Linked DNA regions of Homo sapiens: all the other regions are reported to be linked to region 1. The links are microRNA targets in miRTarBase. Many come from high-throughput screens and were not tested one by one. Region 1 holds a microRNA gene; each other region holds the end of a gene's coding sequence.
Evidence for each region. Region 1 holds the annotated microRNA hsa-miR-764 (GCAGGUGCUCACUUGUCCUCCU, at 1,856-1,877, opposite strand). A microRNA usually pairs through its seed, bases 2 to 8, with sites in the 3' UTR of a target mRNA and lowers its output. Matches are read on the target gene's strand: a 7mer-m8 pairs with bases 2 to 8, a 7mer-A1 pairs with bases 2 to 7 and ends in A, and an 8mer does both.

Region 2: the mRNA of GNE is a reported target of hsa-miR-764. Seed matches in the 3' UTR shown: 7mer-A1 at 1,031-1,037.
Region 3: the mRNA of CWF19L1 is a reported target of hsa-miR-764. Seed matches in the 3' UTR shown: 7mer-A1 at 1,064-1,070.
Region 4: miRTarBase lists C2orf72 as a target of hsa-miR-764. The part of its 3' UTR that is shown has no 7-base or 8-base seed match.

Annotation. Positions count from the first base shown.
Region 1 is chrX:114,638,140-114,641,321 of GRCh38, reverse strand. MIR764 (microRNA 764) reads right to left here and starts at 1,887; the gene lies at 1,803-1,887. The region is part of intron 2 of HTR2C (5-hydroxytryptamine receptor 2C); the gene reads right to left.
Region 2 is chr9:36,214,422-36,217,603 of GRCh38, reverse strand. It overlaps GNE (glucosamine (UDP-N-acetyl)-2-epimerase/N-acetylmannosamine kinase), which reads left to right. Exons shown (of 12, transcript NM_005476.7): 12 at 4-3,163. The coding sequence ends at 239. Among named protein-coding and RNA genes, the nearest start is that of CLTA, 25 kb to the right of the region's middle.
Region 3 is chr10:100,230,533-100,233,714 of GRCh38, reverse strand. CWF19L1 (CWF19 like cell cycle control factor 1) reads left to right here. Exons shown (of 14, transcript NM_018294.6): 14 at 344-1,417. The coding sequence ends at 488. It overlaps CHUK-DT (CHUK divergent transcript), which reads right to left. Exons shown (of 4, transcript NR_186419.1): 2 at 2,589-2,700; 3 at 272-484. Among named protein-coding and RNA genes, the nearest start is that of CHUK-DT, 2.5 kb to the right of the region's middle. RefSeq lists a silencer at 2,810-3,072.
Region 4 is chr2:231,046,575-231,049,574 of GRCh38, forward strand. It overlaps C2orf72 (chromosome 2 open reading frame 72), which reads left to right. Exons shown (of 3, transcript NM_001144994.2): 3 at 308-3,000. The coding sequence ends at 447. It overlaps LOC112268432 (a long non-coding RNA gene), which reads right to left. Exons shown (of 2, transcript XR_002959456.2): 2 at 2,302-3,000. Among named protein-coding and RNA genes, the nearest start is that of PSMD1, 8.8 kb to the right of the region's middle.

The DNA.
Region 1 (3,182 bases):
CAGAAAACAGTTTTAAGAGAAAATATATGCATCTATTCGTGAATTTTATATGTCAACAGAATCCAGTGGCATCTGCTAAAGCAGAAAATCTACTACGAATAAACATTTTATTCAAGTTTAAGAAACAAGGAGAAGCAGGAGGATGGCTTGAGACAGGGAGTTCGAGGTTATAGTGAGCTGCGATTGTGCTACTACACTTCAGCCTGGTGTAGACACTGATGAAATACACAGATGAAAGAAAGAAAAGAAAAGAAAAGAAAAGAAAAAAAGAAAGAAAGAAAGAAAGAAAGGAAGAAAGAAAGAAAGGAGAAGGAAAGAGAGAAAGAAAGAAGGAAAGAAAGAAAAAAGAAAGAAAAAGGGAGGGAGGGAAAGAAAGAAAGAAGGAGGGAGGGGGAGGGAAAGAATGAAGGAAGGAAGGACAGGAAGGAAGGAAGGAAAAGAAAGAAAGAAAGAAAGAGAACGAAACAAGGAGAAACAGCGCAATAAAATAGATGTTGTATCACAAATCCATAAGATAGAAAGGTCCTACTTTTGAAATAAGGTCAAGAAATCTCTATTCCCCAGACTGTAAGCTACTTGAATGCACAGAATCTGCTTTTGTCTTCATTACACTTAGCATAGTGCCCTGTATTTAGTAAGTCTTCAAAAGATGTTTGTGCCATTGCAAAAATGAATGTCAATAATTTTAAAAATATGCCCAATTTGTTACCAAAAGAGCCAACCATTAAACATTTACTGTCAAGCTTCATTGTGGTATGTCATAGCTTGAAAACACTCTGTAACACACACCTTTTGTGTACTATGAGATTTGAGTCTTATAAGATCAAAATGTGGATAAATCTCTACCTGCAGTGTGGCAAATGATAAGATGTGATTGGCAAAGTCTTTAATGTTCAACTTCCCAATGGCCCAGCCGTGTACTTTATTCTAACTAGCATTCCGTGTCATATAAGAAGCCTCCCTTATTTCTAATCATTAATCACTCTTAAAGATATATGTGTTTCATTGTTTTCATTTAAAGTGAATGTAAAATACATTTAAGTAGAGATGTAGAGACTGACAATATCCAATTCTACTTTTTATGGTTCGAGGATTCGTTATCATCAGTCAATTGAAGAAAATACTACTTCCAGTATTAGACTGCTAAAATGATTATCATTAAAGATAAATAGATTATGAATGGAAAATACCTTTCATATATTAAGTATTATATAAATATGTGTCGAACAAAAAATGTATGAAAATTTATATTTCAATGATGATTATATTTACTTTGTAATTACTATTATTTCACTATTATAGTATAGCACAATTTCTTCAAATGTCAATTTTGAAAGTTATAAAGTTCTATAAAGCAATCTTACTTCCTGGCTTAACCTTAACCTGTAATATACTTCAAACTCAAGGACAGAAAGATTGTAAAATACAGTAATAATATATTAATCTTCTTACATCTATTCATACTTTTACAAAAATTTTCCAGGCAGCATTACACAAGGTTAAATACAAAGTTAAAAATCAAGAATCTCAGTCCCTTTACCGCTGTTTATTTTTGCCAATGGAGTATATATTTTATCACTGCAACATTATAATCTGTGAACAACACATGGCTTAAACATTATGTTGTGTTGTTTAGAAGAAATGGCCTGAGAAAAGTAGCTTGCATTTCAAAATCTTTAAATTTCAAAACATTACCACTGTGTTCTACCTTGAGGAGTTTAAAATTTCACAGTCCCACTGATCTGAGAGTCCTCAATGCATTGATTACAACCAGCGGGTCCATCTTCTATCCCAACGAAATTAATCATGGTAACAGTTGCCACTATGGCCTCCTCCCTGCATTTTCCAAGCATGGAGGAGGACAAGTGAGCACCTGCCTCCTAGATTTTAGATTGAAAATATCACCCGAACACACCAGGATTCTTTATACTATGGCAGAGTATAACCTTCTGAAAAAGGCCAAGAGTCTCCTAATGAGCACATCCATACATTGATCATGATGTTTTCCTTTAAAAACCAAGTTCCTCCAAGAATTTGTAAATGGAATTTAGCAATATTTACAATTTACTCATCAATAAATGGCATTTGAAATATTTATTTCACATTGTTTTGTCACATAGTTTAAAAATTTGATCAAAATATTTATAGAACTACTTTTTGTAATAGGAGAAGCCCTTTTTCTTTTAATAATAAAAATAATGTGCCAAGTAAAATATTCATTTATGAAACTGCTCAAGCAAAAGTAAAACCAGAAATATTCGAGATCATTAAGGTTATCCATTCTTCTTGTAGAATATTACTGAAACCTACAAAAGTATTACAAGACACATGCACATGTATGTTTATTGCGGCATTATTCACAATAACAGACTTGGAACCAATCCAAATGTCCAACAATGATAGACTGGATTAAGAAAATGTGGCACATATACACCATGGAATACTATGCAGCCATAAAAAATGATGAGTTCATGTCCTTTGTAGGGACATGGATGAAATTGGAAATCATCATTCTCAGTAAACTATCACAAGAACAAAAAACCAAACACTGCATGTTCTCACTCATAGGTGGGAATTGAACAATGAGAACACATGGACACAGGAAGGGGAATATCACACTCTGGGGACTGTGGTGGGGTGGGGGGAGGGGGGAGGGATAGCATTGGGAGATATACCTAATGCTAGATGACGAGCTAGTGGGTGCAGTGCACCAGCATGTCACATGTATACATATGTAACTAACCTGCACAATGTGCACATGTACCCTAAAACTTAAAGTATAATAATAAAAGAAAAAAATAATAAATAAATAAATAAATAAACGTATTACATAATGGTCAAAAACATATTACAAATTATCACTTTAAGAAGGTTTAAAATTGTACAAGGATTCCATTTACAACATATTTGATCTATATGCTTGCTAACCTAAAGATCTTGGTTATATAACATCTCATACCTCTGCATTTCAAAGATGGACAGTGACAGACATTGTTAAATTCCTGTTTGAAGGTATTAAAAATGACAGACTTTGTTTCTAAATTATGAATTTCCACATTATATTGAACTCTCGGGCTATTTTGTTGCTCGCTCTCAATTTGTGTTTACTACATTGTTTGGGGCATGAGTAGGTTTTCACTAGCTCATCTGAGAGGAAACTCCCTGTTTCTGAAATTCTTTAA
Region 2 (3,182 bases), not on the chromosome of region 1:
TAGCTGGAACAGCTTTGGGTCTTGGGGTTGTGAACATCCTCCATACCATGAATCCCTCCCTTGTGATCCTCTCCGGAGTCCTGGCCAGTCACTATATCCACATTGTCAAAGACGTCATTCGCCAGCAGGCCTTGTCCTCCGTGCAGGACGTGGATGTGGTGGTTTCGGATTTGGTTGACCCCGCCCTGCTGGGTGCTGCCAGCATGGTTCTGGACTACACAACACGCAGGATCTACTAGACCTCCAGGAACAGACATGGACCTTCTCTCCAGAGCTCCTGAGTGGAATCAAGTTCTTGTCTTTAGGATGACCGTTTCTTAACAATCAAATCTGGTATTGAACTGCAGGTGACTTTGGCAGAGAAATGTTTTCACTTTTGGTCTCCTCTTCCAGAGTCACCTTTCCCCACTCCTATTTTTGTAGATGCTATTCTTTCTGATGTCTTCTTACTAGGGGTCATTTTAGCTCAAACCCTGTAAGTTACAGTCACAATTTTCTGTGCCAAAGCAGCTACAATAATAGAGAGGAAGCCTTCTTAGAACTCTGCTTACTAATGTATTAATACCACTGAGACCTTCAGGCCTTGCCTGGGATATCACTTCATCCTGAAGTTTGCATTAATAATCCTTCCAGGCCGGGCACAGTGGCTCACGCCTGTAATCCCAGCACTTTGGGAGGCCGAGGCGGGCGGATCACGAGGTCAGGAGATCGAGACCGCCCTGGCTAACATGGTGAAACATGGTGAAACCCCGTCTCTACTAAAAATACAAAAAATTAGCTGGGTGTGGTGGCGGGTCCCAGCTACTCGGGAGGCTGAGGCAGGAGAATGGCATGAACCAGGGAGGCGGAGCTGGCAGTGAACTGAGACCGCACCACTGCACTCCAGCCTGGGTGACAGAGCAAGACTCCATCTCAAAAATAATAATAATAAATAATAATAATAATAATAATAATAATAATAATCCTTCCAGCTGGGCGCAGTGGCTCACGCCTGTAATCCCAACATTTTGGGAGGCCGAGATGGGCGGATCACCTGAGGTCAGGAGTTCAAGACCAGCCTGGCCAACATGGTGAAACCCCATCTCTACTAAAATACAAAAATTAGCCGGGCGTGGTGGCATGTGCCTGTAGTCCCAGCTACTCGGGAGGCTGAGGCAGGAGAATTGCTTGAACCCGGGAGGCGGAGGTTGCAGTGAGCCGAGATCATGCCACTGCACTCCACCCTGGGTGACAGAGCGAGACTCCGTCTACACACACACACACACACACACACACATCCTTCCTCCTCTAACCCCAAACTAAGATCACAGAAGGTGATCCAGTCAGAGAACAGAGGGAAATCTTACCAGGAAGGGCTTAAGTACACTTTTTTTTAAAACAGCTTTATTGTTTTTAAAGCCTACAATTTGATAAGCCTTGACATATGTATACCTGTGAAAGCATCACCACAATCAAGACACTGGACATATCTATCACTCCCCCATCTCAGATATCCCCCCTAATCCTGGATACCATTTGTTGAAAGATGTTATTACTCTAGCTGAACTTACAAGAGACTTTAGACCAGGGATCTAAATTACAGTGGCCTTAGTGACCTTGTCCTTATCTTCTTAGGACAGCTGAGAAGCCACTGGGACTTAGAGCCTTTAAAAGGAGATTAACTGTCCCAAAAGGATCTTTGCTACTGACCAGCAGACACTTCTTCCTTCAGTAGCCTTTCATACTGTGTTGAGTAACACCCTAGGGTGTCCATTAAAGTTTTGAGTTTTACCTAGAGCCCAGAGCCATGAATCAGGATTCTGTCTACATGATTCGTGTTTTCATTGGTGTCAAAATACAAAAGCCAAAGTTCTGGCTATGAATTGTTAACTTGGAAGAAATACTAACTGCCACCACTTATTAAGTGCCTACTGTGTGCCAGGCTCTGAACTAGGTGCTTCATATACATTATCCTAAATTATCTCAACATATGAGGTAGGTGTTTTAATTTTTATTTTATAGAACTTGGTGTGTTTGACTGTTAAGCTATGGGGCTAGAGAGAGGGTTTGATCCCAGGTCCCTCTGTGCTTTTGCTGCTGAGCCACACAACCTCTCATTTCAAAAACACTTTCAAAATGCTAACATATTCTAATTCACTCTAGGCCACCAAAAACTTTAATACTAATATCTGATTTGTAAATGACTTAATGTATCCTTGACCCTATCAGCTGAATTTAATGAAATATTCCTCTCTGCTGTGAAATTTTACCAGTATAGTATTTGGTCTAGTGACAGGTGTTCTATTTTTTTGAGACGGGTCTCACTCTGTCACCCAGGCTGGAGTGCAGTGGCTCAATGCAACCTCTGCCCCCCAAGTTCAAGTGATTCTCCTGCCTCAGCCTCTTGAGTAGCTGGGATTACAGGCACATGCACCACGCCCGGCTGATTTTTTTTTGTATTTTTAGTAGACAGGGTTTCACCATGTTGGCCAGGCTGGTCTTGAACTCCTGACCTCAGGTGATCCGCCCGCCTCTGCCTCCCAAAGTGCTGGGATTACAGGTGTAAGCCATCACACCTGGCCCTAGTGACAGGTTTTTATGGGTACTTTTAGATGATCTAAGAAATCATGTGCATATATCTTTCAGATTTCTATTTTGGGAAAATGAAGGTTTCTACAACATATTGTTTCAGTGTTCAAATAAACTGAAGGACTCAACATTACATTTGAACTATATCCTTCCTAGTGGGTTAGTGTGAAAAAGAGTTTGGCTGATTCCTAAAACTCTGCCAGCCCTGCAGTAATCTCCAGGGCCTGGTTATTGTTCAGACATTCCATGGTGATTCCTGGGAAGGAAGCTTGGCTGCTCAGTTTCTGAGTCTGGGGTGAGATAATGTTCTGGGAAGGGACATCTGTTCTTTGGTGTAATCTCTCATGGTGAAATCTGCTCTGTACATCAGACAATTGCATTGCTACCAAGTTTCATACCAAATATTTGAAAGGATGGTATTGAATCTAAAACCAAATATTAGTTTTTATTAAACTCATGGGAAGGCTAATATATTCCAACGTAAATTATTACATATGGTTAAGTAATTGCATGTTAATTTATTTTAATGTAAATATTTTTGTTACTGTTCTGAGCCAAATTCTAAAGAAAAAATAAATACATTTCCTTGTTGAAATCCTGTTGTATTTTGTTTT
Region 3 (3,182 bases), not on the chromosome of region 1:
ATCATAGATAGCAAGTGGCAAAGCTGGAAATGGGATCCAGTCTCTGATCTTTCTCACACCAGGGCCTGCCCTTTTTCTATGTGGTGTTGCTTCTCTAAGTACCAATAATATAGTTCCAAGTTTTTTAAGAGAGGGAGAAGCAAGTGGGGTTTGAAGGATCAGGAAATATATAGTACCTGAGCTGGTCATTTAAAACGGGTATGATTTTGATCAATAGTATGGCAGAGATGGCACTCAGGGCAGGAGAGCAAAGTCAGAGAAATTTGCATACCTCCTTTGGGTGATGTTGAGGAGAGCTCAGGCTGATAGTTTCCATTTTGACTTCTTTGTGCTATTTCTGCAGGGAGGTCCTGGCCAGTGAAGCCATCCTTAATGTTCCTGATAAGTCTGACTGGAGGCAGTGTCAGATCAGCAAGGAAGACGAGGAGACCCTGGCTCGCCGCTTCCGGAAAGACTTTGAGCCCTATGACTTTACTCTGGATGACTAAAACAAAGGGAAGAACTTTTTATGAACTCCACAGGAAGTAGTAAAGCTTTTTTTTTTTTTTAATTAAAAGAATTTTTTTTGAGACAAAGTCTCGCTCTGTCACCCAAGCAGGATTGCAGTGGCATAACTGTGGCTCACTGTAGCCTCAACCTCCTGGGCTCTAGAGTTCCTCCCACCTCAGCCTCATGAGTAGCTGGGACCACAGGCGCATGCTACCATGCCTGGCAAACTTTTTTGATTTTTTATAGAGACAGGAGGGTCTCCCTGTGTTGCCCAGGCTGGTCTGTAATGCCTAGGCTCAAGGGATCCTCTGCCTTGGCTTCTTAACCTGCTGGGATTACAAGCATGAGACACCATTCCTGGCCTAGAAGCCTATTTTTAAAGAAACTACAATCTCCCATGGGGACTGTTTCCCTGCCTCTTTTGTGCAGTCCCATGGAACTTGCCTACAGCAAGAGGCCTAAGATTGAATCTTTTTGGGGAAAAGTCATTCTAGGATGAAAATCCTATGTTAAGGCCGGGCGCAGTGGCTCACGCCTGTAATCCCAGTACTTTGGGAAGCCGAGGCAGGTGGATCACCTGAGGTGAGGAGTTTGAGACCAGCCTGGCCAACATGGTGAAACCCCGTCTTTACTAAAGCTACAAAAATTAGCTGGGCGTGGTGCCAGGCACTTGTAATCCCAGCTACTCAGGAGGCTGAGGCAGGAGAATTGCTTGAGCCTGGGAGGTGGAGGTTGCAGTGAGCCAAGATCGCTCCATTGCACTCCAGCCTGGGTGACAGTGAAACTCCATCTCAAAAATAAAAGAATAAAAGTATGTCTGTCATCCAGCTCCTATGTCTGTTATCCAGCTCCAAGTACAGCTTGTGTATATCAACATTTTCAAAAACCTTTAAACTACCAAATGAAATCCAGATGTTTTTCCATGGTTGAGAAGTGTCTTGTGTTCATGTTGCCTGTGACCGTTGAAATGAAGTAGTATGTGTAATAGCAGGGGCTAGAGCTTTAGGCCCAGCTGTTACTCCAAAATCACACAGGGCAGTTTCTCCCTGAACAACCCAAAGTGGAAAAGGGATCCAAGGCTTTTGCTATTTTTCTCTTAAGCATTCATCTTATTCATAGATAAGAGCCCATTTAGTCCTTCGGATATTTAACTCCTATGTGCCAGGCATTTTTCTAAGCTCCAGGACCATAGTCATGTCCCAATATGGTCCCTGTTGTCCCAGAGATTACAGTTTAATGGGGAATAGAAGGGACAGATTTAAGAAAAAAAAGATAATTCTCCTTTGGATATTGTTTTAGGTGCTTGATATATCTAATATGTGTCTGTTGTGCTGCTGGGCAGTTCTAAACTCATCAGTACCTGGGTTGGTTACAGGGCTTTGGGGATCATCAGGGTATAGGCCATAGGTGAAATTAAGATAGGGTAAATACAGTCCTGAGCTGAAGATGATTACCTGAGAAATATCAGTATTTAAGGAGTGCTTGAAAATAGTGATCTAACATTTACATAGAGAAGGAGCAAAGAGAATGCTACATATTAGGCGCAAAAAGAAAAATATTTTTACCTTTATATTGGGCACTTATGGTCCAGACACTGTTTCATTTAATCTTCACAAAATCTCTGTGAGGTAGGTATTACCTCTATTTTACTCATGAAAAAAAAACTGAGACTCGGAAAATTGAAGATTGTGGAGCCTGGGGTCAACAGGCTTAGGCTTTTTAAAAAACAGGCCAGGTGGCTCATGCCTGTGATTGCAGCACTTTGGGAGGCTGAGGCAGGCAGATGACCTGAGATCAGGAGTTTGAGACCAGCCTAGCCAACACGGTGAAACCCCGTCTCTACTAAAAATGCAAAAAATTAGCTGGGCGTGGTTGCATGCGCCTGTAATGCCAGCTACTCGGGAGGCTGAGGCAGTAGAATTGCTTGAACCCTGGAGGTGGAGGTTGCAGTGAGCTGAGATCACACCATTGCACTCCAGCCTGGGTGACAAGAGTGAAACTCCATCTCAAACAATAACAACAACAACAACAAAAAACAACTCAAATTACTCATGGCCCTGGGAATGGGGGCATTTAAAAAGTTAACCAAGGGAACCAACCTGGTTTCCACAAAGATGGCCACTTCTGGGTCAGCCCAATCATCAGTATCCCTGGGTCCTCAGCATCCCTTCCTACCTCTTTTGACTGGGAATTACGAGATTACAGCCCCACCTACGGAAATTGAGCACATTAGCACTGGCCATGCTGTACATACAGCAAATGAGAGGGCTTCATACTGTTACAACAATCTGTACCACAATTCTCTGTGCGGTCTGCCCAGCTCTAAATGACATGTCCTCAGAGGCATCATCATCTCCAAGTCCATGGAAACCATGCACTTACAGAAACCAGAACCTCCCATACCACATGTTACTAATGACCTACAACATCGACTTCGTCTGTATCATGCAGTGCTCAACATTCTGGTTGCAGCATCACATTTATCAATAATTTGATTCCATGCTGATTCCTTTACTTGGAGTATTGAGATCCCCCAGGTACAGTGAAGGTATGACCCTCTTAAATGGAAGACCAGGAGTTGTTTCCCCTATGCTATGGCAATCCGCCACCCGGAAGCACTTGCTGCACCAACAGCATTCCCAAAGCTTGCCTCTGCAGCCCTGTAGCACCCATTAGAAACACTTCTCACAATG
Region 4 (3,000 bases), not on the chromosome of region 1:
CCCACCAAACACCCAGGTTTGCTCTTTCTCTCTGTTGGGCCATCTTCAGTGTCAGTTTCATCCTTAGGCTGGTAGCAAGATAGCTCCAGCAGTTCCACTAATTATTCCTAATTATTTTCTTAGGATAAAATCCTAGAAGTGAAATTTGTGGGTCAAAGGGTGTGTACATCGTTAAGGTTTTTGATATGTATTTTGTTTTGTTTTTTAAGTAGGTATTTGCTGGGGACAACTTTCTCCTTTTCCTTCCTAGATAACTCACTCACAACCTTTCTCTTCTGATTCAGTGATTTCTTCTCCTGTGTTCCAGAAGACTTCCAGGAACCTGAGGAGGAGCTGCCACTAACAGCCATATTTCCCAATGGAGACTGTGATGACCTTGGAAGGGGGTCAAAAGCCTGTGATGGAGTCGTACACACTCCTGCTGAGCCCACCGGAGACTCAAGATGAAGGCTGGACCCTTGCGCTGTCCCTGGCTCTAACCTACAGACTGGGGCCTGGCTCCGTCTTACTGGCCCCCAGGTCTCCATGGAGACTGCAGAAACCCCCGCCTGCTGGAGGCCTGCCACACTCACAGTTACCAGCTAGACAGTGGGGCTTACTAAGACAAGCAGGACCTAAAACAGTGTCTCCCCTGGGAACCTACTCCCCACCCAGCATTTGCTAAGTCTGATCACAGGGAGGTTATTTTGTCTCTCTGTCTCGGTTTCTCTGAGCCACTGAGACAGATGGCTGTCCGCTTTGAGGCTCTGCAGAGCTGTGGCACCCCATGGTGTGTCTGCAGTGTTCTGGGCACATGCATGGGCACCCATCGTTGAGAGTGCAGCTGGGAAGAACTCTGAACCAGAAGTCATCAGAGCTGAGGCATGGCCTTGAACATGTCACTCAGTCTCTGGGGCTTCTGTTTCACAAATGCATGAGGGGGCCACCAGCCCAGTGGCTTTAAACCAGGGGCAGGTTGTCCCTCCAGGCAGCATTGGAAATGTGTGTGTGTTGAGGGGGTCACAGTGACTGTGGGGGCACCCCTGGCATCTAGTGGGCATCCCACAATGTGCAGAACAGTCTCTGACAGCAAAGAATTGGTCCATTCAATGCCAATTGTAGTACCTTTGAGACATTCTGGCTGAGCCAATGCCTTCTCCCTGTCAGAGTCCCCCAGAGCAGAGAGGGTCAGGCTTCCCTGGACCTTGGCTCCCAGAGCAAGCCAAAATAAAGACTACACTGTTGCCTTGGGGGCTTGTCGGGCCAGGGCCAAGACGGTCTGCGTGCTGCAGGGCCAGGACAGAAATAGCCACACATGCCGGTGAGAACAAAGAGCCTCTTTCTTTCTCATGTTGACATCGACTTTCTGTGCCAAGTCCTTTGGGTATAAGGATGCTAGGGAATTCCTATAGGCACCAAACAGAAGGAAAGCTAGGGGCTTGGACTACTGGGTATAGGACTTGCTCTAGCTCTCAGGTCCTAGCCCAAGCTCAATGCAAACACAGCCCCTCCGGGCTCTCTGTTTCTGTGAGGTTCTGGAATCCCTTCCTCTGTGTCCGTGAGTCTGACAGAATCGATGATGTTCCCTTAGAGCTGGGAAATCCATGTGTTTATTCACGGAGGGAACTCACCATTACCTCCCTTGTCTTCTTTGCCTGCCTTGGAGAAATCCAGAGTCTTCGGAATGGCAAAGGCAGCTCCTGGATTTCCCTGGAGGGGAGGCACTAGCTGAGGGAAGTAGCTCCCTTCATTCATGATGCACAGTTTACGCAGCAGACACACAACTGCGCCTACTATTTGCTCGGTGCCCTGCAAGGTGCTGCCTAACTTTGATTTGTTATTTCAGCTCTCTCCAGGATAGTGCCAAATGGTGCAATGGGAAACCTGTTTTGCTGGGGGGCTCTAGATCACTGGCTCCAGAACTCCCGGCTGCCAGGGTAGCCCCTACCCCCAGCCCCTTGCTCCTGGACAGCAGTGGGTCTCACCTTTAGCCTCTGCCCCCAGTTCTGGTCTGACCCAACAGAGGGGCTCTATGATATTAAGAAGGGGCCCTTCCTGCTCTGTGCCTCAACCTATTCTCCATAATAGGGAGTCTAATCCTATTCCTTCCCTGCCTGATGAGGATGGTGTGAGGATGAGGAGGACGGCATCTCATTTGGGGCTTTTTGGCAGTGGGCCTCATTTTAATCCTGCAGGGCTGCCTGCCAGTGGATCTATCCAGCTGCTTCCTTGTAGCCAAGAATGAGTTCAATGAATTGTGATTCACTGATTTTATTGATTTTGTTTTAAAACAGGGAGACTGGTATTTTTGAAGCTGCTATCATTTTCTATTTCTTTATTAATTTCTTTGTAATCATCTTATTAAAGTTTTCTTATTTAGTGGGAGAGGGAGCTTTGTTTAAGTTTGGAATTTGCCTAAGGCAGAAGTTATAAGGCTTCATAACCTTTTGTATGTATTGCCAATATTTGAAACTTGGGAGATTACGTATAAAAAATACCTAGTTTTCTGGGTGGAGGATGGGGCATGCTGTCATCTCAAGTCTGCTGCGGCTCACCCCCACCACCTTTACCCCCTCCCCCGCCCTTCCCATCCCCCACTGCACTTCACTCATGTAAGACGTCTGCCCGGTGCTGGTCCAGGCGGGCATGTGAGTTTGTAGCCTCTGCTCCAAAGGATGGTTTACACATTATTTTTTCATTACCTTCAGTATTCCTGTGAATGGTTCAAGAGAGAAAGTCTTCATTTACTAAGATTTGGGTTCTGCCTCCCAAGTGACAATACGGGGCTGAGATCCCTCTCAGCTTCTTTGAGATGTGGCCACCATAAGCATCATCGTTGTAGGGACAGTCTCATTGCTGTCTTCTAGCAGACAGAAGAGTTAGGTGCCAGAAAGGACAATCTTGATGGTGGGTCCCCTCCCTGAAGGACTTTAAGAAGGCATAAAGGGGTTGGGGTGGAGGGTGGCGTGTGAAGGAGGAGGCCCTTGATTAGGTCAGTGGTCCCTGGGAGCCATCGGCGAG